Regions from separate parts of the Homo sapiens genome. Here region 2 is linked to region 1. Evidence: fine-mapped expression QTL. A gene starts in region 1. The other region holds a variant in brackets. All regions are shown on one strand. Distances are between the middles of the regions.

What was found. PIP is the estimated chance that this variant, and not a neighbour inherited with it, causes the effect.
Region 2: its variant is fine-mapped to the expression of ADAM21 in fibroblasts (GTEx, PIP above 0.99).

Annotation. Positions count from the first base shown.
Region 1 is chr14:70,443,177-70,459,722 of GRCh38, reverse strand. It overlaps ADAM21 (ADAM metallopeptidase domain 21), which reads right to left and starts at 7,549. Exons shown (of 2, transcript NM_003813.4): 1 at 7,460-7,549; 2 at 1-2,374. The coding sequence starts at 2,223. The coding sequence ends at 55. LOC124903339 (a long non-coding RNA gene) reads right to left here. Exons shown (of 2, transcript XR_007064237.1): 2 at 15,242-15,890.
Region 2 is chr14:70,423,179-70,439,724 of GRCh38, reverse strand. All of the region lies in intron 1 of LOC124903339 (a long non-coding RNA gene), which reads right to left. Among named protein-coding and RNA genes, the nearest start is that of SYNJ2BP-COX16, 14 kb to the right of the region's middle. RefSeq lists a silencer at 14,066-14,266. The variant G/A (reference allele first, on the strand shown) is at 10,949.

The DNA.
Region 1 (16,546 bases):
TGCCAAGAGACTAAAGTGTACTAATGCATGGAATATTAAGTTAGAGACATTTTCTTAACCTGATGAATGAGCCTTAGTTTCTTTGGGACCAGAACATTGTCGTAGATACATAAGAAGCCCGACAGTAAACAGGAAAGTCAAAACAGACAAAGAAGGAATCACAATCAGCGGCAAAAAAACTCCTCTCTTTGCAGATGCTGGGCCACTGTCAATACTGCCCCCATAGCCTCTGTGCTGGCAGTAGGGTGGGGACCACCCATAGCCACAGTGGCAGTGATGTTTGTTATTGCAGATCCCCTTCATATTGCAGGTCTCAGGAAGGCAGACATGTGACAAGACAGACAGACTGACACACTTCTTATGGATGCAGATCTTTCCTGGGCCACACACAGTACCATCTTTCACTTCACCAATGTCAGATATGTTCATCCTTAAATGATAGTCAATACCCCAGCAGGTGACACCATTGATATGAGTGTGCTGCAAAGTAAAATGATCTTGGAGAAGAGGAATGTCTCTCACATTCTCACATTGAACTCTCCCACAAAAGACATCAGAGATATGACATTTTAGGTATGTTGTGCCATTTATACCACAGTGACCAAAACGGTTTCCCTGAGAATTGATTTCTTTATAGCAATTCTGAGATGCACTTTTTGCATCTTTACCAAAAATCTCCCTGCAATGCTGGTCATGGTTATTACACCTCTTTTGATAGCAGTAGGCACTGTCACTACAGGGGATCCCGTCCTGCACATATCTATCTTCTGGACACTGATGAGATGTTCCATTGCACCATTCTGGAAGGTCACATTCATTGACCTCTTGTCTACAGAGTTCCCCTGATGGCATGAACTTGCAGTCTTTGCAACAAAGCCCAAAAGCACAGGCAGCCCCAGGCCTTAGAGTGCAGTTCAACAGACAACAGGCGTCTTGTTCACACTGCTGTACGGATCCACAGTCACACTGCTCTTCTCTTTCAACCACACCATTCCCACAGCGCTTTAGCATAAAGATTTCCCCCAATCTTGGAGGATTATGCAGACATGATCCCTGGTTTAAGGTGGTCTTCATAAAATCAGCGTAACTGCAATTGGTGAATTTCTCTGCTGGCACTCTAAAAGTATTCATGATGCAACCTCTTTCCCCACAAAAACAGAATTCTTCATCATGCTGCATACCTAACGTATGACCTAACTCATGGGCCACAGTGTTGGCAAAAAGAGACCAGGTATCTCCTTGAAAATTATCAACTCCACAATCAATAGGTGGACGACATATTCCTGCAACATAGGCTAGGCCAAGTATACTTATAAGTGAATTTTTTATGAACATATGTGCAGCATCATGCTGTAGCTGGGAAAGACTGATTTGTTTCCATTGAGAGAAATCGTTCAGGACCTGTTCTATGCTTGTCATTGGGAAAACATTTCCTTGATTCCAAATTTCAATTCCAATCAAAATTATGTAAGTACCTAACTGCTTATACATGGAATCCACTATGTTGACAACAAGAAATACATCCTCTTGCACCTTTGAGATGTTGCTTTGAGAGTAAATGAAGAAATCATGGTTCACCACAACAACTAGCTCCAGAAACCATGCATGAGTCCACCAGTCACCAGCAGATTTTGGTTCCAGAGCTGAGTTCTCAGCCTCTTCAAATTCCAACTGTTGGCGTGCTACTTCCTTCTCTGTTAAGCCACATCTCATAGCTGGGAATTGTGTCTCATTACTGTTTATCTTATAAACCAGGTGTTCAAATGTGGCAGAGTGCCTGATGGGTTCAATTTCATAAGTGAGGCCACTTATTTTTAATACTCCTCGAAAGCCCCCAAAACAAGCACTGAACACAACCAGAGACTCAGGGGCTGCCTCCACGTAACCATGATAGTAACAGTCATCTGGGATGAAGAGCTGATCCTCCAGGAGTGCACGGTCATCTGTGTAGGTGAACACTGGGAGGTGTCTAGAAACTAAGAGCTTCTTGACCCTCATATGAACAACGTGTTTCTGGCCCCCAAACCGCAGACTATAGGAGAGCCATCCAGGAGCCTTTGCACTTCTGCCCCTGCTGATCACCTTCAAGGGGATCACCACTTCCGGGGAAGTGAAATGCTGGGAGGGCCCAGCCTGACAGTAGCCGGAAATAGACAAAAATACCCCAAGCCAGAGCAGCAGAAGAGTGACTCTGATGTACACGAGGGTCCCATCCACTGCCATTATGAAGCTGTCGTTATGGAGCCATCTGTCCAGAGCAGAAGAGGACAAGGTGTGAGGCACTGCTGGTCTGGCTTCTCCCTCTAAGCTGCTCAGGATGCAGGGCTGACCCTGTGGATCTGTGTCCTGGCAGAGTTAGATCAGAACTGCAGTGCTGGAAGTAAAAATAAAAAGATGGGTTGGAAAGGTGATAAGTAAGGAATCAGGAGAGAAAAAGAATGAAGTAGTGAAAAACTGGTTGATGAATCAAGAAAATGCTTTGGATTTGCTTTTAGTAAATGAGGGTGGGGATTTAGGGGGTATAGAGGAGACAACATTGGCCACGTGGTGATAATAGTTGAAGTTGGAAGATGGGTACTTAAATAGTTATCTCAGTCTTTACAGGCAGTATGGAATGTCCATAATAAAAAGTAAAAGCAAAAGTAAAGAAACTTAAGAGTAGGGTGACTCTATATATCAAATTGTCCAAGATAATATTAGTTTATGCCTGTTGCCCTTGCAATATCTATTGATAGTGTCTCCTTTGACTATCAAAACTGGAGACATCAAAAATAATCACAATTCTGTGTCAAGTTGCATCAGTCTTATGATATACTTTAGTTTCTTTATCTCAAAGTTATTTACTATTCCTCATTGTATTCATCTTTACTCATAACTTCATTAGACTGAAAGATTCTTGACTGCAGGGTTTATGATTTTCGTTCATTTTAGTATCCTCTGTAATGCCTCATATAGCTCTATGTACAATGAAAAATGGAAAAACGGAGGAGGGATTGCAAAATGTCTTGGATTATAAGTGAATGCTACTAAAATGTGTTCATATTGTAGTATAATTTTTAGAAAAGAAAATTCATGAAACACTGACATCATTTAAGGGTATGGAGAGAATAATGTTGTTCTCTCCAGTTAGCTACAGGAGAGTCCCAAAGACAAAACGAAATGCTTTCAGAAGAGAAAATGAGAATCTATGCAGTTTAAAGGTCTTCCGAAAAGGAACTCTTTTCTTATTAGGGCAAAAACCATTGTAGAGTCTAGTATTTTAGGATCGCCAGGGAAGAGTCTGAGTGTTTGCTCAAATATATTTACCAACAGTTTTTGAAAGTGGGGAATTTCTGCACCTGTCATACAGTCTGGCTGGCAACACTTATCCATTTCTTTTTCTATTTATTAAACAAGTCTTTATGTGTTTGGAGCATACAAAGTGCAGGACATTGTGCTAGATATTAGAGAAAGAAAATCAAAATACAGAGCATTAAATAAATTATCAATTTAGTGCAGAAACTGTGGCAGGAGCAAGAATAAGCTTTAGGAGGTCAGTAATATTGTATTCAATATTTTATGTATTTCATGACTTTTTTTGCTGAGGAGAGTATCCATATATTTCATCATAGTCTCAAATGACTGTCAAAAGTGAGGCTAGTAAGCACTGAGCATGTGTAGAAACAAACAAAAAACAGATAATTATAATATAATATGATCAAAACCAGACAAAGTTTATGCTTCAGGGATCCTCACTGTACAGACCTCTATAAAGACCCTGTAAGGGGCTCAGCAATGGACTTTATGAAAGTCATATAATTATGAGTAATCAAAATTAGTCACTATACAAGAAAAATCTCAAACACCCTGAAATATTACATCGCATACATAAAAGACTTAATAGAGGTTTTCTAAAATTTGACAATAGTAAATTTAATTATTTATCTCATTACCAATAACAAGCTGTGAAGCTGAATTTTCTTTTCTAAACTATTAATAATACAAAATGAATTTTTATTAAACATACTAGGGAAAGGCAAATGCCTTTCAGTTCTTGCCGTAGAAATTATAACAAAATAATTCTCTTAAGGGAGGTAATTAAATAAGCAATTTAAAAACTATAGGGAAAAGGTATCATAAAAGTGAGTTAGGAAGTTGATTAATGTAATACTGAGGGGATTAAATTTTGTGATGTTTATGGTGTTTTCAACCTTTTAATATTTATAATTTGTTGCAGCTTCTTTCTTATGCTAAATAAATCCTCATTTTCATACTTATTTTCTGCAATTGTAACTTGGTATTATTTTTCTTAAAGTGGGCCCCTCATCTTGTACGTGCATCAGGCCCAAAAACTTAATTTCACCTCTGACTGTGATCAACATATTGATGAAGGTAGGTGCTATTTCTTATAAGAACAAAAAGGAAAAGCACTTAAATCAAGCTAATCTAAGAGGACTTACACAGAAGATATAAAAATGAACATGCCTGACCCAACACCAATCATCTCCTGGATTTTGAATCCATTTCTAATCAATGCTTTCTTTGCCCTGATTCAAGTTTCCTTATATTCTCTTCTTATACCTTCCCTTGTGCTTTCTGGAGTCTTCCTTTAAAGACAAAAGGAGAGAGAGAGAGAACCAACTCCATCCTGTACCTCTTCACAGAAAGCTCCCTACATCTACTTACCGTATTGAACCTGAGCTTTAATAGAATTTACTGCTTGCCTAAAGGCTTCCTCTTGAGAAACTCCATCCTCAGAAGTCACATGCACCACAAGGACCAGAGTTCCTGTTCTCCACAGCCCACAACATGAACACCAAATCATTTATCCTGCAATATCTGACTACACTATTTTTAGATGTCTCTTCAACCACCCTTATCACACTTGGACAAAATTCAAAGGCTCTGGCCTCTGACTGATAAAATTATTCTCCACCAAAATTCCTACCCTCAACTTAAAGTAATATTAGCAAGTATATAGAAAACCCATCTGAAAACAAGACAGGGTTTTTTAAAGTTTTTTTTAACCTCTTCAATTCATCTTCAGTGTAATTCAGCCCACCCACTCATAGTCATAATGTATACCTTGTCAACACACAAAAAATTTCATATATCCTAATCAATTTACCAACAATTTTAGTTCTCCCAGCTCTCCCCCTTACTTCTGCTATACCTGTTTCTCAAACCCAAAGAAAACCCAAATACTTTTCTTTCATCATCCCCCATTTCTCTTAATGTTCTTGTCTTCCAATCCATTCAGCTCTGCTACCAGTTTCATCCCTTCAAGCACTGTATGCCAAAATCTTTGACTCTAGAGAGTCCTAAATGTGACAGAGATTGTCGGGGAATGGGGGGTGGGCAGGAACTGCATTAATTCTTCACATACTTCCTCCACTCCTACATCAAAGCTACTAATGCTGCTCTGAAAAAAAAAAAATCCCAAAACCAATGTGTTTGTGAAAGGCTTAAAAAGAGAATATAGAAATCAAAACTGAAATGGCTTGTCCTGGATCCCCAGCCTAAGGAATAGAGATATAAAATCCAGTAGATATTTCAAAACTTCCTATGCCATATTGCTCTTTTCTTTATTCTCCTGGATATTGCATTTGCACCTCCTCAATCTTCTGAGTTTTCCTCATTTATGTATAGTGCCAGCAGCTGAAAATCCATTCTCATTGTCTCTCAATCACAGTAGAATTAGTTAACCAAGTACCTTTCCTTTCTAATATAAAGTATTTAAGGTTTTTTTCCTTTTCTTGTCCTAGACTGGCTATGTGGATGCTGGAAGATGGGGAAAACTTGTTTCAAGCTGAACATTATCCTTGCCATTAACTTGCTTAAAGAGGCTGGATTCATCTGGGCAGTTTTCACTGCTGCAAGTTAGGCACCTTATTCCACAAGGTGCAAGTAGCATGGAAGAGAAAAGCAAAGTTCATAGGCAAAACTTCCAAGAACAAAGATCTCTGAATTGGGATGAAATTCTAACTGCCAGATTTGCTCTCTATATCTCTCTTGATATGTTTTCTACTTACTATGGAGTGACAGTTGTTGTGGATGGGAGGATTGAAAATGGGAAGAACTAATCAAAGATATAATGTTGTGGAAAGGACTGATAAGCTACACCAACCTGTGTCATATTATTCTTTTTCTTGGAGCTCAGCATGAGAGCAGGCAATAACAGGAGAATAACTTTAAAAAAATCTTTAAAACCAGACTCATTGTCTTCATTCCTAGGACTTACAGAGACCAAAGCTCCTGAAGTACCATCATTCTACCATGGATACTGTGAAGTGGTACCACCGTAAATCCATGTCCTCTAATGTCAGCGGACTATCAGGTGAGCCAACAGCCCTCTTCTGCATGTTTGATAAACTCTTCCTTTCCCCACAGCTATTTCAAATTCATCAAGACCGCTCTCTACCCATCTTCCCTCTTATTCCAATGCCCTAATGCACTGTTTTCCTATCTGTCTGTCACTAATATCTGTCCCATTAGAGTCATGGAAGTAATTCAGCTGGCTATAGCCTGCAGTCTTTTTCCTTGAGGAAATAGAACAGAAATATCAGAAGGCATCCCTAGAAGATCCTTAGCAACCTTGCACACACAGTGCCAAATATGTGGGGTGTAAGTGTGTGTAAAGCCACAATGTCATAATATAAAGTGGATTTCTTTCTCTGGAATATGATACACACACACACACACACACACGCCAAATTCAAAGATAAAATGGTTTCTGGGCCTTTCACCATCTGAATCTGCCTATATCCACCTCTTCTCTACCTTACTACCTCTCTAGTCTCATTAGCCCCTCATGGTTCCAGATCATCTCTCCCACCTACTTGAGGACTGTTTCTATTAATTTTCCCTATTCTCAACTGCATCTTCATCTTCTACTACTTTATCTATTCCTTACTGGCAATTGAGGTGACTACCTCATCCTGATTTTCCCAGGACTGTCCTGGTTTTAAAACTGAAAGTGCTGCACCCAGCAATCCCCTCAGTCTCAACCAAACTGGAATGGTTGGTCACCCTACCTACATCCATGCTCAAGTCACTCATATCTTTAAAAATGAAAACACGCCGGGCGCGGTGGCTCACGCCTGTAATACCAGCACTTTGGGAGGCCGAGGAGGGCGGATCACGAGGTCAGGAGATCGAGACCATCCTGGCTAACATGGTGAAACCCCGTTTCTACTAAAAATACAAAAAAATCAGCCAGGCGTGGTGGCGGGCACCTGCAGTCCCAGCTACTCAGGAGGCTGAGGGAGGAGAATGGTGTGAACCCAGGAGGCAGAGCTTGCAGTCAGCTGAGATCGCGCCACTGCACTCCAGCCTGGGCGACAGAGTGAGACTCCATCTCAAAACAAACAAACAAACAAAAAAAATGAAAACAAAACAAAAATTAAGAGACTTCACATTATCCAGTGGACTACTCTGGATACCAAATTATGCATAGAACCAAACTTTATGAATGACTTACCATCAGAAGAAACAGTAGTTTCCATGGCCATTTCTGTCTAGATGGTTTATACCATGCTTTATCAATGGTTTGTAGCTGAGGCCACAGAACAAAGGGAAACATAAGCCCTCTCCCTTTTGTCTCTCAGGTGACTAAATTCTAGATTTAGCTACTTAGCAACAAGGAACTTTCAATTCTACAGAAATAATAATAGGCTCTGAAGAATATCTTGCTCTCATCCTGCCATTTCTATACTCACTTCCGAATTTAATACAATTGGAATTGGGTTGTCTCCTCACCTCCAGTCTATGTCCCCTGACAGCACAGGTTTGTAATTTTGCTGGTGTCATTGCATTGGTCTAGACTGTCTAATCACTTTTCCCATTGAACTGAATTATAGTAACTTTATAGGGCAAGATCAAATTCCACTTCCATTATCAAATCTTTCCTAAATAATCCAGAAAACATTAACATCCTGTAACTCTCTTTATAACTTTAATATGCAATACATTTTTGTGTGACAAAATTTATATCCTTGCTATTTTCTGTTTCATACGTGAGTTTTAAAAATTGCATCTCCTATTAGACTATAATGTTTTGGAGAAAAGTATGCTCAAAATGATTGGTGGAGAATTTATGGTATAGTGTTTGGTAAAATATATAATCAATAAGATGAGTTCAATTTATAAAAACTACATAGGATAAAGACTAATTTAATAAAATATTAACTCTAACTTTGGGAATTTCTGTTATAGATTTTTGTCAACTCCTAATTTACCTGGTAGAATCAGAGCCTCATGGGATAACCATCAATTAGAAGCAGTTTTAATTACAGACCCCTTCCATTTCCTGCCAGGAAAAGATTCTACTATTTATGCTGGTTTCTTTAGAAATCTGACAAGGTTCCTTTTGATAAACTGTTTTGCTCATACATGCAAAACTGGAGACACCTCTGCCTTAGGAGGGGTAGATACAAAGAGGTTTGTCTTCCGCTGGACTCAGTGGATAACATCTACTTCTATACCAGACATCATTTACAATGAGGTATACATAGCCCCAAAAAATTAGAGTAGAGGAAACCACATACATTCAATCATGGAAAAAGCTTAGTAGCAAGCCAGTAGCACTAGTAAGCAGAGCGAAGAAACTCTACGCAGGGAGAAAGATAATTGAGGAAGAATAGAATGCCTGCTTCAGGCAGAACAAATAGTAACCTGCAAGATCCATAGGTGGGAAAAGAATGAAACCTTCCCAAAGGAGCTTGGCTTGATCTCTCTAGCTGTAAGAAGGAGTAAATTTATTTCTTCTTCTTCTTTTTCTTTTTCTTTTTTTTTTTTGACAGGGTCTCACTCTGTCACCCGGGCTGGAGTGCAGCTGTTTTTTGTTTGTTTGTTTGTTTGTATCTTTTATAGAGATAGGGTTTGTCCATGTTGGTCAGGCTGGTCTCAAACTCCTGGGCTCAAGTGATCTGGCCTCCCAAATTGCTAGGATTACAGGCACCCGGACAACATTTATTTCTTTGTGGAATCAGCACTAAGAACTTCTGGTTCCAGAAAAGATAGAGTAGACACATTTCTTCCTATTATTCCTAGTAAGTATAGTAAGTCCTCAATGTCATGAATAGGTTCTTGGAAACTGCAACTTTAGGTGAAACAATGTACAGTAGGTCCTGAAATAACATTGTTTTGTCCAATGTGTTTCATTATAACACTGATGAGACAAATAAAAATTTGTTTTGTTGTATGTTACTTTGCACTGTTAAAGTCACAGTTTCTGAGAACCTATTGCTGATGTGAGGACTTACTGTGCAAGTAAAAACACTGTATTTTAAATAGAAAACAAACATAAGAAGGTTAAGAAAGGTAGAGAAAATCATGCAGAGAAGGTACCTACCCTGGGATCTAAGGAATAACATGGTGGTGAATCCCTGAGTTTTCTTTTAACCTCAAGCAATCTGGAGAAGCCTATAACATTTTAATGCCAACAGACATAGAACAAAAAGACTCAAGAAGTTTGCTGTCTGTAGCCAAAGGACTCAGAAATGAGCAGTCTGGCGAGACAGAAAACTTTTAGAAAATAACCATCCTTCTCCACCCAAATGTCATGGGAAAACTTGTATCCCCACATGCACTTCATCAGCAAAAGCCACATGGGGAGCTTAAACTTTCAAATCTTCCCAGCTGTAACGTGGCATCCCCTCCCCCACCCCACTCACTGGGGTGGTGTCAGAGAAGGTCAAGTTGAGTTCTGAGACTTTCCTCCTTGTCATGCAGTAAATGAGGCCCTGATATAGTTTGAATGTTTGTTCCCTCAAAATCTAATGTTAAAACATGATCCCCAATGTTACAAGTGAGGTGTGATAGAAGGTGTTTGGCTGGATCCCTCATATATGGCTTGGTGCTGTCCTTGCAGGAATGAGTGAGTTCTTACTCTATGAGTTCACATGAGAGCTGGTTGCCTAGCCAAGCTCTAGGAACAGGGCCACCACCCTTCAGACCCCTGAATGATAGAGCCACCAGCAGCTTGTACCCTTAGCCTAAAAACACTGCAGGCACTCAATACCAATCTGTGAGGGCAGCCACAGGCGCTGCACCCTGCAAAGCCGCAGGGGCAGAGCTGCCCAAGGCCTTGGGGAGCCCACCCCTTGCACTAGTGTGGGCTGAATACAGGACATGGAGTCAAGGATTATTTTAAAGCTTTAAGGTTTAATGTCTGCCCTGCTGGGCTTCAGACTTGCATGGGGCCTGTTGCCCCATTTTCTTTTGGCCAATTTATCCCTTTTGGAATGAAAATGTTTGACAAATGCCTGTGCCACCATTTAATCCTACAGGCACATAGGTGGAAGAAACCTGCCTTGAGTATCAGATGAGACTTTGGACTTTGGACTTTTAATTGAATTGATGCTAAAATGAATTCAGACTTTAGGGGACTACTGAAAAGGGATAATTGTGTTTTGCAATGTGAAAAAAAAAACATGAAATTTGGGGTCCTGGGAAAAAATGATATAGTTTGGATGTTTTTACCCTCCAAGTCTGATGTTAAAATATAATCCCCAGTGTTAGAGGTGGGGCCTAGTGGGACACGTTTGGAGCATGGGGGTGAGTCCTTCATGAATACATTGGTGGTGTCCTCATGGTAATGAATGAGTTATTCCTCTATGAGTTCATGTGAGATCTGGTTGTTTAAAAGAGCCTGGCACCTCCTCCCTCTCTCACTTTTTTCCTCTCTCACCATGTGACACACTGGCTCCCCTTTGCCCTTTGCCTTCAGTCATGATTGTAAGCCTCCTGAGAACCTCGCCAGGAGCAGATACAAGCACTAGGCTTCTTGTACAGCCTGCAGAACCATGAGCCAAATAAACCACTTTTCTTTATAAATTACCCAGTCTCAGGTTGCTTCATAGCAACACAAAACAAACACTGGCTCCTATTTCACAATGTCAGTGGAGGTCACTTGGACAGCTGTAATGAGGCATCTTTCAACTTCCCAGCTAAGATGGCGTCAACAGAGGCCTAGAGAGGAGGATGAACTTTTCCATTTGAACAGCAGATGTGAGCTGCCCTTTACCCCTGGCATATCAACAGAAATTAAGTGGAGAACCTGGAAAGATGCCAGCGTTTAGCAACAGCAAAGTAATGCCATTCTTACCCTACTGGTGCAACATCATAAGGATCCTGATAAAAGAAAAAATTTAATAAGATCTAGGGCCTCACAACATAACACCCAAAGTGTTCAGAATACAGTGGAGGCCAGGCGCAGTGGCTCACGCCTGTAATCCCAGCACGTTGGAAGTCCAAGGTGGGCGGATCATGAGGTCAGGAGTTTGAGACCAGCCTGGCCAATATGGTGAAACCATGTCTCTACTAAAAAAAACAAAAAATACAAAATTAGCCAAGCATGGTGGTGTGCGCCTGTAATCTTAGCTAATAGGGAGGCTGAGGCAGGAGAATCACTTGAATCCTGGAGGTGGAGGTTGCAGTGAGCCGAGATCATGCCACTGCACTCCAGCCTGGGCGACAGAGCAAGACTCCATCTCAAAACAATACAAAAAACAGAATACAATGAAAAATCACTAGTTATTTATAAAACCAGGAAAATCTTAACTTGAATGACAAAAAGACAACAGATGCTGACTCTGAGATGATGCAGATGTTAGTATTATCTGATAAGGATTTTGAGACAGACATCATGAACTGCTTCAATGAGCAATTACAAATCTGACTAAAATGAAAAAAATAGAGACTTGGAACAAAAAAATGAGAAAGTCTCAGGAAAGAAATATAAAATATAAAGATGAAAGTAATAGAAATTTTAGAACTGGAAACTACAATAACCAAATCCAAACTCACTGGATGGGCTCAACAGCAGGACAGAGAATAGAGAAAATTATCAGCAAACTTGAACATAGAGAAATAGTTAATACCAAACCTTTTGTTAGATTTATACCTAAGTATGTCATTTTTGGGAGGTGTTAATATAAATGGTTATATTCCAAAGAGATCAAATCAGATCTGTACAAAACTGTTTATTGTGGGATAATGTGTACTACCAAAGGTTTGTGCACAATTCTAATTCCATCATTAGAAAGCTATTAGGTAAACAGCAATGCTTCTACATCATGAATAATATGCAGTCATAAATGAAAAAGGATTATCTCTTTACATTAATATTCAGTGATTTCCAGGGTCAGTAAGCTTAAAAAACAAGATTAAGAGAAGTATATATGGCATACTACATTTTGTGTTAGGAAGGAGAAAAAGGAGAATTCTGAGAAGATGACAATGTTGAGACTTCGATCCATCTATTAGGGAAGATAGAGCTGACAGATGCAGGAGGCAGATAAGGGAACCTGCCCAGGGTCTTGCCTGGGCATGCTCACAATGAACTGGGGGCCTGTATGTTCACTGGGAGAATGGGGTGGAGCCACCAGGAATTCACACCTTATGCTGGGGGAGGGGCCCGGCCTCTTCAGCTTGTGTGAAGTGGTCTGGTCTTCAATCTGTGAGGTGGTAGCATGTTGGCAGGACCACTTCTTTCTTTGCTGAGCTTTCTTTTTGCCTAATAGATCTACCCTCCTCATCCTTCAATTTGTCCACGTGCCTAATTTTTCCTGGTTGTGAGACAGAAACCTGGATTTTAGCTGAACTAAGGAGCAAAAAATCCTGCATCATTTGGTAGCCTGTAGAGGGACATGAGGAGGGGTGAGTAAAGTGCGGACCCAAAAATCTCCTTCCCTTTCATTTCTGAGCCTTTTTGTCCTCACACTAAGTCTGAGGGTAGAGGAAACTGCTCCCCCGCCCCCCAACACCCATCACTCTTGGGGGTCAGGAACTTTGGCCCTGGTCCAAGCCAGTCTTTTCTATGGCATTTTCCTTCTTTTTGGGGGAACTGTAATGGCATCTATCATTTCTTTTACAATATTGGGGATGTTTCACCCCCACCCCAGTGGCCTCAGGTACACGTACAGGATTGACAGGTGAGCAGTTGCTCCCCGCCCCTCTTCCCTTTTGGCTGGGGCACATGGCTGTGTCTGCTGCATGTGCGTGCCAAACACACACACACAGGCCAACAGCCACGCAGGGCAAAAATGAACCACAGCCACTACCCAGGCCCCAAGGCACCTCAGGGTCCCATGCCCTGCACAAACAGCTGGCCAGCGTTCCCCACCACATACCCCTGGCGTCTTCCCCTCCCCTGGCCAAGGGGTCCAGCTCAGTCCAAACCCCAGGGAAGAAATAGCAATTAAAAGTTTCTCTCCCAGTTGAAGAAACTCATTTGCATAAGAATAAGAGGTTTCTTCCCCAGGCATCTTTTTCTTTTCTCCATTTTTCAGCAATTAACACAGCGTTGTATTTAGGTTTTTTTTTTTTCCTTTCTCCACCAGGTCAGAAGTTAACTTTTATGTGAGAGGCATTTTTTTTCCTTTTAGAAGACGTTTTACTAGGTTGGGACCCCAATTCACAAGACACCCTTTTCTATCCCTTGTTGGAGGAAGACTCAAATTCACAGCTTCACCTTAGCATTCTGCTTATAAGGAGTTCATGCAACCCAACCCCCCAGAAACATTTTTGTCCCAAATTCAATTCCAAGTTCAGGAACTCAAAGGCTACTGACAGCAGGGGAGATAGGGCATACGTGGGTAAGAGAGGATGATCCCACCCCCTAGACCCCTCTGTTAACATGGGTGAAAGCTGCTTTGATACCCATGGGTGGCAACCTGTTGTGATTGCCAGAACTCAGAAATATAAGGATGGAGTAAAGAAAGAGACATGCTTTGCTTTCTCTACCTCATGTACCATGGGTATTCGCTAGGAAAAGAAGGGAACTGGGGACACCTTGCTCCTCTCTTTCTAGATGAGTAGCCATTCATCTTCCATCTGTACCTCTTTGAATGCATCCTGAGTCCTGGGTCTCCTTTGAAAAAATGCCGTATTTTTCCTTTTTCCTCCTCTGTCCTCTGTTCACAGATGGAAGGTTGTGTCCCCATGCTGCAGGACACTCCCCTCAGATGTAGCCTCCAAACTGGGAAAAGTTAACTTCCCAAGCTTTAAACTAGTTGTCTTGGGATTGAGCTCAGTGGGGAGGGAACACAGAAGCCTGACATGCTGGCAAAAGGGGCCTGACATGCTGGCAAAAGGGTAAGAGTGGTTTTTTTATTTTACCAGTTGAGCTTTTGGCCCCACTCTCCTGTGCAAACTGGTAAAGGGAATGATAAGGATCACTGTTTATATTCTCTGTAAAGTTTGTAGAGTTTTAATTATAAAAAAGGATTCATGAGGTTGGTCTTAAGCTGTAGCCAATCTGGTGTGCTTTGCATGCTTCTCTATATGGTTCTGTAAGAAAGAGGGGTACCTTAGGTTGGGATGTGGGCCTAGGACTCTATAGGCCTTCTACTCAAGCCAGCCTGGAAAACTGGTCAGTGGCAAACTTTGCTGAAGGCCTCCATCATATTTTATGTACTTGGAAGGATGACCTTTAACCATGTGGCAGTGCTTTGTTTTAGCCTCTGCCATTTTACAATGGTGGCCCAGGTTCAATCCCGGCTTAGGGAATGAGTTCTTTCTGGTTCGATATCTGTGACCTTTACCATTTGTTGATTCTCTTCCCCTCCATGAACTACCTTGAATTTTCCTTTCTGTGAGCACCTGGGAAGTTACCTTTCATAAAGTTCAAAAGCTAGAAATATTGGCTGCTTGGCATGGCTAAAGTTGCATAATAAGGGATTTAAAAGGACTTTCTTAAAGAGTGCTTATCTTAACTAAAAGTGGATATCCAAGTTATAGGTATATTTAAAACGCCTTTATGTTTTTCTCTTCTTGGATCTTGTTTTGTTGGAAAAAGGTTTTTTTTTTCTCAGACAGCTGAATTCTTTTTCTCCCTTAAGGCATGCATGAGAGGCCCTAAAATAATTTCTGATGGCCTGGGGCTGCTTGGGCAAAACAGAAAAGGTGCCACAGATTCCATTTTGGGAGAGACCTCTGTTTTCCTCACGGAGCCCCAGGAATTGGAGGCAGATGAATCCCTCTCAAAATCTGATTTTGTCTTCCAGCTATACCTGTTTTTTAGGCCCTAGAAACTGCATGCTTTCCTAGCCATGCTCTCAAAGGGCCCACTCAGAGGTGAACAGTCCAATTAAGAGATTGCAGAACAGAAAATCTGATAACTACTGGATCTGCTTCTGCTTGTCTGTGTAGTTACATAGGTGTAGTGTGTGATGTCTATTTTAAAAAAGAGCTCTAATTAATTGACTTGAAGGATAAGCACTAGGATCAAATATTTTTGAAGAAAAAATAAACACTGTAATGCCTTTTAGTTCATGTGACTTTAATCATCAAGAAATAAAAAAAGACTTATGGATTCTGAACCCCAAAAATTTGAGACAGGTCTCAGTTAATTTAGAAAGTTTATCTTGCCACGGTTGAGGATGTGGCCATGACACAGCCTCAGGAGGTCCTGAAGACATGTGCCCAAGGTGATTGGGGCACAGCTTGGTTTTATACATTTTAGGGACACATGAGACATCAATCAATATATGCAAGAAGTACATCAGTTCCATCCAGAAAGGTGGAGACAATTCAAAGTAAGGCCCCCCCAACTGGGGGCTTCCACGTCACAGGTAGGTGAGAGATAGATGGTTGCATTTTTTTGAGTTTCTGTTAAGTATTTCCAAAGGAAGCAATCAGAATATGCATCTATCTCTGTGAGCAGAAAGATGACTTTGAATAGAATGGGAGGCAGATTTGCCCTGAGTGGTTCCCAGCTTGAGGGGGCCAAGATATTTTCCTTTCACATTTCCCCCCTTTTCTTTTTAAAAATCTTTTGGAGAAAGTATTTTACAAGGAAATGAGTCTCTGGTCTTGTTTCATCTGATCTCTCGTGGCTAGGATGGTTTATTTCTAGATGTGTAGGTTGCAATAGCTCATTTTTAGCAGGTTGTATAAAGTCTCATGTCCTGTGAAGAGAAAATAGTGGTGTGATGGTTAATACTGAGTGTGAACTTGATTGGATTGAAGGATACAAAGAATTGATCCTGGGTGTGTTTGTGAGGTTTTTGCCAAAGGAGATTAACATTTGACTCAGTGAGCTGGGAAAGGCAGATTGGGTGGGCACAATCTAATTAGCTGCCAGCACAGCTAGAATATAAGCAGGCAGAAAAATGTGAAACGAGAGACTGGCCTGGTCTCCATCCTCCCGTGCTGGATGCTTCCTGCCCTTGACTATCAGACTCCAGGTTCTTCAGTTCTACAACTTGGACTGGCTCTCTTTGCCCCTCAGCCTGCTGATGACCTTGTGATCATGTGAGTTAATGAAGCAGAAAATGTAAAAAGAAAAATAAGTAAAGGGAAAAACAAGTTTTCCTGTACTTGGCTAACTCACTCCAAGGCCAGCAATAGGCAGAGCCCTAGTGGGGCCTTGATAATACTATCTGAAAAGCCAGAGCCCAAAGGAATGAGCTCCAGAGATTCTCCCAACACCTTCCCCACCCAGAGCAAGAATAAGAAAAACAAGTTCTTCTTATCAGTTTCCCCCTTTGAAATTCTTTTCCTATACCATTATCCTTTGATCTCTTCTCACAACTACTTTTGTAACTATTTCTGCAAGTTTGCA
Region 2 (16,546 bases), 20 kb after region 1:
ACCCAGCACACCCCTTTAAACCCGGGGACTCTGTTTGGGTCAAGAAATTGAATCCAACCACTTTGGGACCCCTATGGGATGGGCCCCATACTGTAATCTTGTCCACTCCCACTGCTGTTAGAGTTGCAGGAATTGTGCCTTGGATCCACCCCAGTTGGCAGAAACCAGCAGTCCAAGACAAGTGGACCAGCCAACAGGACCCAGACCATCCAACCCGGCTAATCCTATGATGGGACTGAGTTGCCATTAAGGATGGTGACAGCCCTGCTCTGGTCACTCCAGAAGCTGACCAGTCTACACATGGCTGAAGCTTGAGGAGACAACAGCCATGCTCTAGTTACCCTGGAAGCTTACTAGTCTATGCACGGCTGAAGCTTAAGTTGTCATCAGGGAAGTAATGTGGCTAGAGATCTTAAGCCTAGTAATTTTCCTTATAATATTAATTGTTATACTGTTGTTCTGTTGCTTTGCTCAACCTCCTCCACTGGGTAAAAACCTCTTTTGTCCTTGCTGGGTATAAAGATGCTGCTCTTTTCTTTGTTCCTACTCCTCCCCATCAGGGCACTCCCTTTACCTGTGCCAGGGGATGGGCCCATAGAAGGGTGCCCCCACTGTACTCACACCACACGGTCGGGGAGCACAGTAACTAGAACGCTGTTACATCACACTTACTGTAAATGTACAGGGACTCGCCGAGGAACTTGTATTCACAATCAGACGACCTACTTAGTCTGTGACCTGGGAAATGACCAGCCTTATATATGTTATTATGCTAATTCCTCACCTTATGAGTCCATCCGGTTTGAGGCCTATGTCAGGCAAAAGAAGGGAACCTTCTAACCCTAACCCAAAAGGTCCCTCCCTCCTACAGGGGGCCTATTTCCTTGTATTTTGATGACTGCCAAGCTGCATACATCAGCTACTCTTATCCTGTAGTTTCTTGTGACGGCCTATCATGGGAAAGATACTATAGTAACTGTCACAAGTATATATGCGCACCAAGGAGAGGAAGCTTTCAGGAGAAGACCCCTCTTTGCTCCCTGAGGTCTCTGGAAGCAGACTGTCAGGCCAGCACGATGTGGTCCATTGACCCTGTAGAAAGTCAGGGACGACCACAGGAGACCGTCAGGCTTACCAAAATGCCAGCAAAACCATATTGTAAGACAAGAACCTGCAATCCTTTAAATTTTACCATCTTGGAGCCAAATCTGCCCATATGGACTACAGGTTACCCCATGACATTATGGATCAGTGGTCAGGGAACTGACCCAGGAGTCTATTTATATATTATAAAGAAAACTCAGACCCATTCAACCCAATAATTCTGAGTTTTTGAGTCATTCTGTGAGCACATCCACCAGGAGTTGCCTGAACCTTCTACCTTGGCCAGACACCTCTTTCCCCAACTAGCTGAAAATATAGCTAGCAGCTTGCACGACTCCTCATGTTACATCTGTGGGGGAACCAACATGAGAGATCAATGGCCATAGGAAGCAAGGGAGCTAATGCCCCAAGATAACTTTACTCTGAATGTCCCCTCCCCCAAACCAACGCTCACAAGCCCGAGCGTCTGGCTCTTAAAAACTTCTATTGTTGGGAGACTCTGCATTGCTCACTGGGGAAAAGCCTTTACAGACCCGGTAGGAGAATTAACTTGCCTGGGACAACAATATTCCAATGAAACAGTAGGGAAAACTTTATGGTGGGACGGGAAATATAATTCTGCATTGCCCCACCCAAGCCCATCCAGTTTCCCTTCCTTAAACAACTCTTGGTACCAACTTAATGTTCCAAATATCTGGCAGGCACCCTCTAGCCTCTATTGGATCTGTGGACTGCAGGCATATCGGCAGCTGCCAGCTAAATGGACAGGAGCTTGTGTACTAGGAACAATTAGAACGTCCTTCTTCCTAATCCCTCTAAAGCAGGGAGAAGCCTCAGGTACCCTGTTTATGATGAAACTAAAAGGAGAAATAAAAGGGGCATAGCCATAGGGAATTGGAAGGATAATGAATGGCCCCCTGAGAGAATAATCCAACATTATGGCCCGGCCACCTGGGCAGAAGATGGAATGTATGGATACCACACCCCTTTTACATGCCCAACCACATCATAAGGTTGCAGGCAGTGCTTGAAATCATTACTAATGACACTGCAAGAGCCTTAAATCTGCTGGCCAAGCAAGCCACAAAAATGAGACACGCTATTTATCAAAATAGATTGGCCTTAGACCACCTCCTAGCCCAGGAGGGAGGGGTATGTGGAAAGTTCAATCTAATTGTTGCCTAGAAATTGATGACAATGGAAAAGTCATTGAAGATATAACTGTAAAAATCCAAAAATTAGCCCATGTTTCAGTCCAGATGTGGAGGGGATGGTCTCCAGACTCCCTCTTCGGGGGCTGGTTTTCATCCCTCGGAGGATTCAGGACCTTAGTAGGAATAGTTCTGGCCATATTAGGAGGTTGCTTAATACTCCCTTGTCTCTTACCCCTCCTTGTCAAAAACATCCAATCAGCAATAGAGGCTCTTCTAACAAGCCAAACTACTCAGCTAATGGCTCTAACCAAATAGCAGCCCTTGCCAAGTAAGAACTAACTCCCCATGAAGAATTAAAATTTGATGATGATGCTTTCTATTAAACTTCATTTATAGGAAGCACCAAAGCGGGGAATGAAGCAGAAAACGTAAAAAGAAAATTAAGTAAAAGGAAAAACAACTTTTCCTGTACTTGGCTGACTACCTCCAAGGCCAGCAATAGGCAGAGCCCTAGCAGGGCCTTGATAAAACTATCTGAAAAGCCAGAGCCCAAAGGAACGTGCTCCAGAGACTCTCCCAACACCCCCCCAACCCCGAGCAAGGATAAGAAAAACAAATGCTTTTTATCAGTTCCCCCTTTGAAATTCTTTCCCTATACAATTATCCTTTGATCTGCTCTTACAACTACTTTTGTAACTATTTCTGCAAGTCTGCAAGGATTTTGTAAGCTCCTGTTTTCCAGCTGTGCAGTATGGCAATGGTCACAAGACATGCCTGAGTTGTAAAACCTGTCACTGTTTGATAAACTGCCTTTGTTCTCCTTCTGTAAGCTTGCTTACCCACCTTACAGGTTTTGTGCCCTTTTCAGATGTATGTATAAAAGTCAAGCCCGGTCTTTGTTTGGTGTTTAGCCTTTGGATATGAATCTGTTGAATTGGTGGCCGCCTAAAAAAATCCTCCTCTTCCACACATTGGTCTCTCTGGTTTCCTGATTCCCACAACATTAATACTTAATAAACTCCTATCTATCTATCTATCTATCTGTATGTATGTATGTATTCCATTAGTTCTGTCCCCCTGACTAATACAGATTTTGGTACCAGGAGTGATTCTAGAGGAACAGAATATTAAGGATGGAGTTCTTTTGTTGGTTTTGGGGTTTCTGTGGTTGGTTGCTTAATATGATTAGACCCAAAAATGCTAAGGACTCTACTTCTGATAGTATGGAGAACACTGATAGTACTTGGCATGAACTGTTTAGAGAGTTAGGCAAAATAAGTGCATTTGACACCCTGATTCATTGCTCGTGAGAGGCAAGGAGTTTAGTGACTCAATACATAATACCTTTGACCATATGTGGAGAACAAGGGAACATAATGAAACTGGTTGGTTGCTCCTAAGTCTAGCAGACAAAGTGATGAAAGAAAATGATGAACTCAGGGATTTTATCTCCTGGCCTCAGAGGCAGATGCTGAGCCTCAAATCTGCTAAGATTGCCCTGAGTGACAGTTTTATCTCCTGTAGAGAAAGAGCTGAAATTATGGAAAAACAGAGACAAGCTCTTATCATGTGAGTGGCTGACCTGGAACAAAAGTTGCATACCCAGCCTTGTCAGGTGTCTATTGTTAAAGTGAGGACATTGATTGAAAAAGAATGAGACCCTGCATCTTGGAATGGGGATGTGAAGGAGGACCCTGATGAAGCTGGGGACACTGAGTTTGTAAACTCTGATGAGACTTTCTTTTTTTGCCAGAAGAAACAGCTACCCTATCCCCAGTAGCAGCAGCATCGCCTCCCTGACCCATGCTGCAATCAGCATTTCCACCTTTGTCTGAGGAGATAAACCCTGTGCTGCCTGAGGCAATAGTGATGGCCTCCCCTGAGGCAATCACCAGGCAAGATAATGTTTATTCTCCTCAAGAGCCACTCCCAATGCCCCTGTTTGCTTCTAGACCTATAAGTAGACTAAACTGGCAGGTACCTAGAGGTGAGACTGAGAGTGTGACCCATGAGGAAGTGTGTGACACTTGAAAAGAACTGCTTGAGTTTTCTAATTTACATAAACAGAAATCTAAATAACAGGCATGGGAATGGATATTAATGGTGTGGGATAATGGTGGAAGGAATATAGTGTTGAATCAGGCTGTATTTATTGATCTGGGCCCTCTAACTAGTACTCTGCATTTAATGTTGCAGCTTGGGGAGTTAAAAAAGGGTATGATCAGTTTTTTTTTTGGTTACCTGAAATATGGATTTAAAGATGGCCCACTATGAGTGAACTGGAAATGCCTGATCTCCCTTGATTTAATGTAGAGGAAAGGATCTGAAGGCTTAGGGATATTGGGATGGTGGACTGGATTAGTCACTTTAGACCTACTCATCCCAGCTGGGAGGATCCAGAAGATATAACCTTGACCAATGTCTTGAGAAATAGATTTGTGAGGGCAGCACCTGCATCTTTGAAGAGCCCTGTAATTGCTCTTCTCTGTATGTCAGATCTAACCATGGGAACTGCAGTCACTCAACTACAAAATTTATATACAATGGGAATAATTGGATCCCAAAGTGGCAGAGGCCAAGTGGCAGCACTCAACCATCAAAGTCAAGATGGGCCTAGCTATTGTAATGGACAGCAGAGGCAAAGCAGCAATCAGAATAGTGTGACTTGTGTAGACCTCTGGCATTGGCTAATTAATCATGGTGTTCCTAGAAGTGAAATTGATAGGAAGCCTACTGCATTTCTACTTAATTTATACAAGCAGAAAACTTCTAGGTCAAATGGACAAAAGACTAATTCGAATGATAAAAACAGAGAATCACAGCCCCTCAATCAATTTCCAGACTTGAGCCAGTTTACAGACCCAGAACCCCTTGAATGAAGGGGAGGCTGAGTCCCCTTGAGGAAGGACCCCACTACATCACCAACAATTTATGCAGTTAATCTTTCTCCCATCCTTCCCCAAGGAGATCTCCAAATCCAGCCTTTTACCAGGGTAACTGTGCACTGGGGAAAGGGAAAATGATCAGACATTTCGGGGACTACTGGACACTGGCTCGAGCAGGTCCTGAAGGCACAAGTAAGTTACATGAGGAAGTGGCTCAAATGCCCATGGTCTCCACTCCTGCCACCCTGCCTCCTCTCCCGCAGCCTGCACCGACGGCCTCATGGGAAATTCCCTATGATCAGTTGACAGAGGAAGAGGAGACTACGTAGGGCCTGTTGACAGATGGTTCTGCACGATATCCAGGTACCACCCAAAAATGGACAGCTGTAGCACTGCAGTCCCTTTCTAGGACTTCCCTGGAGGACAGCAGTGAAAAGGAGTCTTCCCAGTGGGCAGAACTTTGAGCAGTGCACCTGGTTGTGCACTTTACATGGAAGGAGAAATGGCCAGATGTGCAATTATATACTGATTCATGGGCTGTAGCAATGGTTTCTCTGGATGGTCAGGGACTTCGAAGAAGCATGGCAGAAAAATTGGTGACAAAGAAATTTGGGAAAGAGGTACGTGGACAGACCTCTCTGAGTGGTCAAAACTGTGAGGACATTTGTATCCCATGTGAGTGCTCACCAACGAGTGACCTCGGCAGAGGAGGAAGAGGAGGATTTTAATAATCAAGTGGATAGGATAACCCATTCTGTGGACACCACTTGGCCTCTTTCCCCAGCCACTCCTGTCATTGCCCAATAAGCCCATGAACAAAGTGGCCATGGTGGCAGGGAAGGAGGTTATGTATGGGCTCAGCAACATGGACTTCCACTTACCAAGGCTGCTCTGGCTATGGCCACTGCTGAGTGCCCAATTTGCCACCAGCAGAGACCAACACTGAGCCCTCAATATGGCACCATTCCTCGGGGTGATCAGCCAGCTACCTGGTGGCAGGTTAATTATATTGGACCTCTTTCATCATGGAAAGAGCAGAGGTTTGTCCTCACTAGAATAGACACTTTCTCCAGATATGGGTTTGCCTATCCTGCATGCAATGCTTCTGCCAAGACTACCATCAGTGGATTCATGGAATGCCTTATCCACCATCATGGTATTCCATACAGCATTGCCTCTGACCAAGGCACTCACTTTATGGCTAAAGAAGTGGTGGCGTAGTTTCATGCTCATGGAATTCACTGGTCTTACCATGTTCTCCATCATCCTGAAGCAGCTGGATTGATAGTAAAATGGTCTTTTGAAGTCACAATTACAACACCTACTAGGTGACAGGACTTTGCAAGCTTTGGGCAAAGTTCTCCAGAAGGCCGTGTATGCTCTGAGTCAGCATCCAATATATGGTACTGTTTCTCCTATAGCCAGGATTCACTGGTCCAGGAATCAAGGGGTGGAAGTGGAAGTGGCACCACTCACCATCCATCACCCCAGTGATCCACTAGCAAAATTTTTGCTTCCTGTTCCTACGACATTACATTCTGCTGGCCTAGAGGTCTTAGTTCAAGAGGGAGGAATGCTGCCACCAGGAGACACAACAATTCCATTAAACTGGAAGTTAAGATTGCCACCTGGACACTTTGGACTCCTCCTACCTTTAAGTCAACAGGCTAAGAAGAAAATTACTGTGTTAGCTGGCATGATTGACCTGGACTATCAAGATGAAATCAGTCTACTAACACACAATGAAGGGAAGGAAGAGTATGCATAGAATACAGGAGATCCATTAGGGCATCTCTTAGTATTACCATGCCCTGTGATTCAGGTCAATGGGAAACTACAACAGCCCAATCCAGGCAGGACCACAGATAGCCCAGACTCTTCAGGAATGAAGGCTTGGGTCATTCCACTAGGAAAAAAAACGCGACCTGCTGAGGTGCTTGCTGAAGGCAAAAGGAATACTGAATGGGTAGTGGTAGAAGGAAGTCATCAGTACCAGTTACGATCATGTGATCAGCTATAGAAATGAGGACTGTAATCGTCATGAGTATTTCCTCCTTCTTTGTTAAAAACATGTTTGTGCATGTATACACTTGTACTAAGAAAACATCTTCAGTTTATTTCCTTTCTCCTTTATCTTGTGACATAAGATTTATTGACTTCATATCAGCATTTAAGTATTGTTAACATTATATAATAGTATTTGGGTATGGGATTGGTGCGTTTCCGGTTGTACGAAGAATAGTTGTGTTATGTTAGGGGTAACTATGACCTTACTATTGTCTTTATTTGAAGATTATGTATGATCTCAGGAGTTGTATATGGGTTCAAGTTGACAAGGGGTGGTCTTCTTATCGTTAATACCGAGTGTCAACTTGATTGGATTGAAGGATGCAAAGTATTAATCCTGGGTGTGTCTGTGAGGGTGTTACCAAATAAGATTAACATATGACTCAGTGGGTTGGGAAAGGCACACCCATCCTTAATCTGGGTGGGCACAATCTGATCAGTTGCCAGCATTGATAGAATATAAACAGGCAGGAAAATGTGAAAAGAGAGACTGGCCTAGCCTCCCAGGCCACACCTTTCTCCACTGCTGGATGCTTCCTGCCCTTGAACACTAGCCAGACTAATAAACAAGAAAAGAGAAAAGAATCAATAAATAAACTAGAAAATCTAGATGAAATGGATAAATTCCTGGAATTTATCCCCTCCCAAGACTAAACCAGGAAGAAGTAGAATTCCTGAATAGATCAATAAAAAGTTCTGTAATTGAGGCAGTATTTAACAGCCTATCAAGCAAGAAAAGCCCAGGGCCAGACGGATTCACAGCTGAATTTTACCAGAGGTACAAAGAGGAGCTGGTACCATTCCTTCTGAAACCATTCCAAACAATAGAAAAAGAGGAACTCCTCCCTAACTCATTTTATGAGGCCAGCATCAACCTGATACCAAAACGTGGCATAGATGCAACAAAAAGAAAATTTCAGTCCTGATGAACATCGATGCAAAAATCCTCAATAAAATACTGGCAAACAGAATCCAGAAGCACATCAAAAAGCTTATCCACCATGATCAAGTCAGCTTCATCCCTGGAATGCAAGGCTGGTTCAACATACACAAATCAATAAACGTAAATCCATCATATAAACAGAACCAGTGACGAAAACCACATGATTATCTCAATAAATGCAGAAAAGGCCTTCGATAACATTCAACACACCTTCAAAAACACTCAGTAAACTAGGCATTGATGGAACATATCTCAAAATAATAAGAGCTATTTATGACAAATCCATAGCCAATATCATACTGAAAGGGCAAAAGCTGGAAGCATTCCCTTTGAAAACTGGCACAAGACAAGGATGCCCTCATCACAACTCCTATTCAAGATATTATTGTAAGTTCTGGCCAGGGCAATTAGGCAAAAGAAAGAAATAAAGGGTATTCAATAGGAAGAGAGGAAATCAAATTGTCTCTGTTTGCAGATGACATGATTGTATACTTAGAAAACCCCATAGTCTTAGCCCAAAAACTCCTAAGCTGATAAGCAACTTCAGCAAAGTCTCAGGATACAAAATCTGTGTGCAAAAATCACAAGCATTCCTATATACCAATAATAGACAAACAGAGAGAGCCAAATCATGAGTGAACTCCCATTCACAATTGCTACAAAGAAAATAAAATACCTGGGAATACAACTTACAAGGGACATGAAGGACCTCTTCAAGGAGAACTACAAACCACTGCTCAAGTAAATAAGAGAAGACACAAACAAATGGAAAAAAATTCCATGCTCATGGATACGAAGAATCAATATCACAAAAATGGCCATGCTGCCAAAGTAATTTATAGATTCAATCTATTCCCATCAAGCTACCATTGACTTTCTTCACAGAAATAGAAAAAGCTACCTTAAATTTCATATGGAACGAAAAAAGAGCCCATATAGCCAAGAATCCTAAGCAAAAAAAAAAAAAAAAAAAGCTGGAGGCATCATGCTACCCAAGTTCAAACTATTCTACAAGGCTACAATAACCAAAACAGCATGGTACTGGTACAAAAACAGATATATAGACCAATGGAATAGAACAGAGGCTTCAGAAATAATATCACACATCTACAACCATCTGATCTTAGACAAACCTGCCAGAAACAAGCAATGGGGAAGGATTCCCAATTTAATAAATGGTGCTGGGAAAACTGGCTAGCCATATGCAGAAAACGGAAACTGGACCCCTTCCTTACACTGTATACAAAAATTAACTCAAGATGGATTAAAGACTTAAATGTAAAACCTAAAACCAGAAAAACCCTAGAAGAAAACCTAGGCAGTACCATTCAGGACATAGACATGGCAAAGACTTCATGATTAAAACACCAAAGAAATTGCAACAAAAGGCAAAATTGAAAAATGGGATCTAATCAAACTAAAGAGCTTCTGCTCAGCGAAAGAAAATATCATCAGAGTGAACAAGCAACCTGAAGAATGGGAGAAAATTTCTGCAATCTATCCATCTGAAAAAGGCCTCATATCCAGAATCTACAAGGAACTAAAGACATTTCTAAGAAAAAAATAACCCCATCAAAATGTGGGTGAAGGATATAAACAGACACATCTCAAAAGAAGACATTTATGAGGCTAACAAACATGAAAAAAAGCTCATCATCACTGGTCATTAGAGAAATGAAAATCAAAACCACAAAAAAATCAATACCACCTCACACCAGTTAGAATGGTGATCATTAAAAAGTCTGGAAACAATAGATGCTGGAGAGGATGTAGAGAAATGTGATTGCTTTTACACTGTTGGTAGGAGTATAAATTAGTTCAACCATTGTGGAAAACAGTGTGGCAATTCCTCAAGGATCTAGAAGCAGAAATACCATTTGACACAGCAATCCCATTACTGGGTATATATCCAAAGGATTATAAATCATTCTACTATAAAGACACATGCACACATATGTTTACTGCAGCACTATTCACAATAGCAAAGACTTGAAATCAACCCAAATGCCCATCAATGATAGACTGGAAACAGAAAATGTGGCACATATACACCATGGAATACTATGCAGCCATAAGAAAGAATGAGTTCATATTCTTTGCAGGAACATGGATGAAGCTGGAAACCATCATCCTCAGCAAACTAGCACAAGAACAGAAAACCAAACACTGCATGTTCTCAATCATAAGTGGAAGTTGAACAATGAGAACACAGGGAGGGGAACATCACACACTGGGGCCTGTTGGGTGGTTGCGGGTAAGGGGAGGGAGGGCATTAGGACAAATACCTAATGCATGCTGGGCTTAAAATCTAGATGATCGGTTAATAGGAGCAGCAAACCACCATGGCACATGTATACCTATGTAAAAAACCTGCACATTCTGCACATATATCCCAGAACTGAAAGTAAAATAAAAATTAGAAAAATTAAAACTTTCAGGAAAAAAAATCAAAAAGTAACAGATGCTGGTGAGGTTGTGGAGAAAAGGTAACCCTTATACACTGTTGGTGGGAGTGTGAATTAGTTCAACTATTGTGGTAAACAGTATGGCGGTTCCTCACAGAGCTAAAAGCAGAACCACCATTCAACTCAGCAGTCCCATTACTGAGTATATATCCAGAGGAATGTAAAGCATTCTACCATAAAGACACATGCACGTGAATGTTCATTGCAGCACTGTTCACAATAGCAAAGACATAGAATCAAGCTAAATGCCCATTAGTGACAGACTGGATAAATAAAATGTGGCACATATACCCCATGGAATATTTTGCGCCAGAAAAAAAGAATGAGATC[G/A]TGTCTTTTGTGGGAACATAGATGGAGCTGGAGGCTATCATCCTTTGCAAACCAACGCAGGAACGGAAAACCAAATACCATGTGTTTTCACTTATAAGTGGAAGCTAAATGATAAGAACTTATGAACACAAAGAAGGAAACAACAGACACTGGGGAATACTTGACGGGGGAGGCTGGGAGAGAGAGGAGCAGAAAAGATAACTATTGGGTCCTGGGCTTAATACCTGAGTGATGTAATAATATGTACAACAAACCCCCGTGACACGTGTATCGGTGTAACAAACGTACACATGTACCCCCAAACCTAAAATTAAAACTAAAAAAAAAAAAAAAAGAAACAAGATTCCAAATTCATATTCTGAGGCTAGCCTAATCCTGATAATACAACTTCATAGTAAAGCATATGTTATGTGCTCTCATTTTAGCCTCTCCACCAGAGAAGTTAACATGCTGGATCAGATTAATACGGTCTTGGGTGCATAGGATGCAACCAATGAACTGAAAATGTGTTATTTTCTATTCTGATAATAAAAGAGCCATCAGAAAAAAATCTGCACTCATATAGCGTGGACACAAATATTTATTTATAGGCTTGCCTCCAGGGCTATGTTATTTCACCTGCCTCTGGCATAATATAATCTGAGGAAATCTAGACTGTTTGAACATACAGAAAACCTTATACGGATTCACTTCATTGAGTATCATGCTGATGGGGCTGCATTGTTGGTTCACTGGAGGTCTTATTAAGAGATATGCATTCCAGGGGTAGGAAAGATTTGGGGACATGATACTTTATTAGAGTATTTAAGGGTACAGTGGTTAAAACCATGGTGGGATATACCCTTGAAGTAAAGGCAAATTGCCGCATTTTGCATTCCCTAGCACAAAGAAAAAGGTGGTGCCTGCTATATGCCTCCATGGGTTGTTGAAGCAAACATTTCACACCTATGAATACTACTCTGGCCCATACACTAGACAATAATGAAGTGATCATCTTTGAGTAGGGCCCAAAACAAGAAATGACCTTGCTGTGGGTCCAGGTTGTTATGTGAAGGAGTTAAGGATATGCCACCCCAAAATATGCCAAATTGGCATATTGATTATTTCAAGCTGAAAGCACTTCAAAAACTGCATTTGCAGTAACAGCCATTTGACCTGCTGTTTTCCACATGTAGCAAACCATAAAATTTCCATATAGACCAGGAGGTCAAGACCAGCCTGGCCAACATGGCAAAACCCCATCTCTACTAAAAATATAAGAATTCCTTTGGGAGGCCGAGGTGGGTGGATCACTTGAGGTCTGGAGTTCAAGACCAGCATGGCCAACATGGTGAAACCCCATCTCTACTAAAAATATAAAAATTATTTTTTATATTTTTATATATAAAACATACAATATAATATTTTATTTAAAACATACATATAAATGTATATAAAAATACAATTAATATTTTATAAAAAATATACAGGCATGGTGGTGCATGTCTGTAATCCCAGCTACTCGGGAGGCTGAGGCAGGAGAATTGGAGAACTGCTTGAGCCTGGAAGGTAGAGGTTGCAGTAAGCCAGGATTGCACCACTGCACTCCAGCCTGGGTGACAGAGTAAGACTCTGTCTCAAAAAAAAAAAAAAAAAAAATTTAGCCAGGTGTGGCAGCACATGCCTATCATCTCAGCTACTCAGGAGGCAGAGGCATGAGAATTGCTTGAGCCTGGGAGGTGGAGGTTGCAGTGAGCTGAGATCACACCACTGTACACCAGCCTGAGTAACAGAGTGAGACTCTGTTGAAAAGAGAAAAAAAAAAGTTCCATAGATGTTGGGAACAGGCCCCCAAATCTGGCCATAAACTGGCCCCAAAACTGGCCATAAGTAAAATCTCTGCAGCACTGTGACATGTTCTTGATGGCCATGACACCCACACTGAAGGTCGTGGATTTACTGGAATGAGGGCAAGGAACACCTGGCCCACCCAGGGTGGAAAACTGCTTAAAGGCGTTCCTAAACCACAAACAATGGCATGAGCAATCTGTGCCTTAAGGACATGTTCCTGCTGCAGATAACTAGCCAGAGCCCATCCCTTTGTTTCGGCCCATCCCTTTGTTTCCCGTAAGGAATACTTTTAGTTAATCTATAATATATAGAAATAATGCTTATCACTGGCTTGCTGTCAATAAATATGTGGGTCAAACTCTGCTTGGGGCTCTCAGCTCTGAAGGCTGTGAATCCCCTGATTTCCCACTCCACATGCTGTATTTGTGTGTGTGTCTTTAATTCCTCCAGCACCACTGGGTTAGGGTCTCCACGACTGAGCTGGTCTCAGCACATAGAGGAAGATGGTTTTCCTGTACTAGGACAAGACAGTAACCCTATTACCAGAGACTGGAAATGGTGCTGCAATGGACCTGTACAAATAAACTTAATAACCCTTACCTTCTACTAGGTTTACCCCTCCCCAGTATATCTCCTAGTGACCTTCCTGGAATTACTGCCCTTAGCCTAGATCCTTTTGTCCTGTCATTTCCTCATAGACGTATTGTTCTTCATCTAAAAAAATATAAAAGCTTTCTGTTTTGGCCATTTCTTCAGATCTTCACTCTCTTGTGAGGATCCCCCTGTACATGTAAAAAGTAATAAAACTTGTATCCTTTTCTCCTCTTAATCTATCTTGCATCAATATCATTCCTAGACCCAGTCAGAGATGGGTGGAGGTGATCCGTACATTCCCTACAAATTTTGGTGCCCAACGTGGGGCATCCTTCACTGGCTGGAACACTGCTTGCTCGAAACTGCTGCACCTGAAATCCTGGCCCTCTGACAAAAGGCCAGCAAAGGTAAGAATTCTTAATACTGTCAGTCTGCTGGATCTCTGCCTGTGGAGAATGGTCAAGGTGAGAGTGGTAAGACTCTTTTCTTCCTCTTTCCCTCTCTAAATTTAGACTGGCAGGAGAAAATATTTATGTGAACTAGTTTTGGGGGCAAAGTGACTTTGGTGTTTGTGAGTAGTCTTGTTTTCTATTTGATCTTTTCCCCCCAGAGTTAATCTTTGCTTTCCTTTTGTCTTTTGGGGTAGTTTGTTATAAGGGGGAAAATCATATGAAGATTCTCATTTCATCTTGTTTTATGTCTTGAGAGCTTGGCTTTGTAACCAAGTGAGAAGTTCTCTCTCTCTGGTCTCTGCCACTTGGGGAACATGATTGTCAAGTCATGTCTGGCAGCCAGCCAAAAGGCTGGGAACTTGAGATGCAAAGTGACAAGCAGGACTCTCCTCGTCTGACTGTGCCAGCTCCCAGGGGTGTTTTCTCTTAAGAAGAAGCTCTAATTTATAAGCAGCTTTTGTAATCTCAACCTTTGTTGCTTAGTGCAACATGGAGGTCACACATAATGACCTCCATTGTATGTCCATATATATGTAATTGTATATGTATTACATATATGTACATTCTATACATACGTGTACATTGTATACATATACATATACATACATGTATACACACATATACAACGTATACATACATGTATACATACACATACAATGTATACATACACGTATACATGCATGTATACATACACATACAATGTATACATACACGTATACGTGTATGTATACATACATATACAATGTATACATACACGTATACGTGTATGTATACATACATATACAATGTATACATGCATGTATACATACATATATACATTGCATACATGCATGTATACATACACATTGCATACATGCATGTATACATACACATTGCATACATGCATGTATACATACACATTGCATACATGCATGTATACATACACATTGCATACATGCATGTATACATACACATTGCATACATGCATGTATACATACACATTGCATACATGCATGTATACATACACATTGCATACATGCATGTATACATACACATTGCATACATGCATGTATACATACACGTATACATACACATTGCATACATGCATGTATACATACACATTGCATACATGCATGTATACATACACATTGCATACATGCATGTATACATACACATTGCATACATGCATGTATACATACACATTGCATACATGCATGTATACATACACATTGCATACATGCATGTATACATACACATTGCATACATGCATGTATACATACACATTGCATACATGCATGTATACATACACATTGCATACATGCATGTATACATACACATTGCATACATGCATGTATACATACACATTGCATACATGCATGTATACATACACATTGCATACATGCATGTATACATACACATTGCATACATGCATGTATACATATACATTGCATACATGCATGTATACATATACATTGCATACATGCATGTATACATATACATTGCATACATGCATGTATACATACAAATACATTGCATACATGCATGTATACATACAAATACATTGCATATGTATTACATATATGTGAACATACAATGTATTACATATGTGGACATATGTATATGTATATGTGGGCATATACTTACATGTGTACACTGTATATGTGTATGTATATGTATATATATACACAAAATTGAGCACTGTAATACATATACACATACATTGTATGGGTGTATGTATACACATACATTGTATGGGTATGCGTATACGCATACATTGTATAGGTTTGCATATACACAATGTAGCACACCATAAAAGTTCCATAGAGATCGGAGTTGTGTAATACATATACACAATGGAGTACTATTTTCCTTATCCATTCATCTGCTGATGGACACTAGGTTGCTTCCAAATCTTGGCTATTATGAATAGTGCTGCAATAAACACAGGATTGCAGACATCTCTGATATACTGATTTAATTTCCTTTGGCTAAACACCTACCAGTGGGATTAGTGGATTTTATGGTAACTGTACCTTCAGTTTGTTGAAGAACCTCCAAATTCTTCTCCATAGTGGTTGTACTAATTTACATTCCCACCAAGTTACAAGTGTTCCCTTTCCTCCACATCCTCGCCAGGATTTGTTACTGCCTGTCTTTCGGATAAAAGCCATTTTAACTGGGGTAAAAAGATATCTTATTATAGTTTCCATTTGCTGATGATCGATGATGTTGAGCATCTTTTCTTTTCTTTTTTTTTTTTTTTTTTTTGAGACGGAGTCTCGCTCTGTCGCCCAGGCTGGAGTGCAGTGGCGCGATCTCGGCTCACTGCAAGCTCCGCCTCCCGGGTTCACGCCATTCTCCTGCCTCAGCCTCCCGAGTAACTGGGACTACAGGCGCCCGCTACCACGCCCGGCTAATTTTTTGTATTTTTAGTAGAGATGGGGTTTCACCGTGTTAGCCGGGATGGTCTCGATCTCCTGACCTCGTGATCCGCCCACCTCGGCCTCCCAAAGTGGAGCATCTTTTCATATACCTGTTTGCCATTAGTATGTCTTCTTTTGAGAAAGGTCTAGTCAGATATTTTGTCCATTTTTTAAATTGAAATATTAGATTTTTTCACTATAAAGTTGTTTGAGCTCCTTACATATTCTGGTTATTAATCCCTTGTCATATGAGTGGCTTGAAAATATTTTCTTCCATTCTGTGGGTTGTCTCTTCATTTTGTTGATAGTTTCCTTTGCTT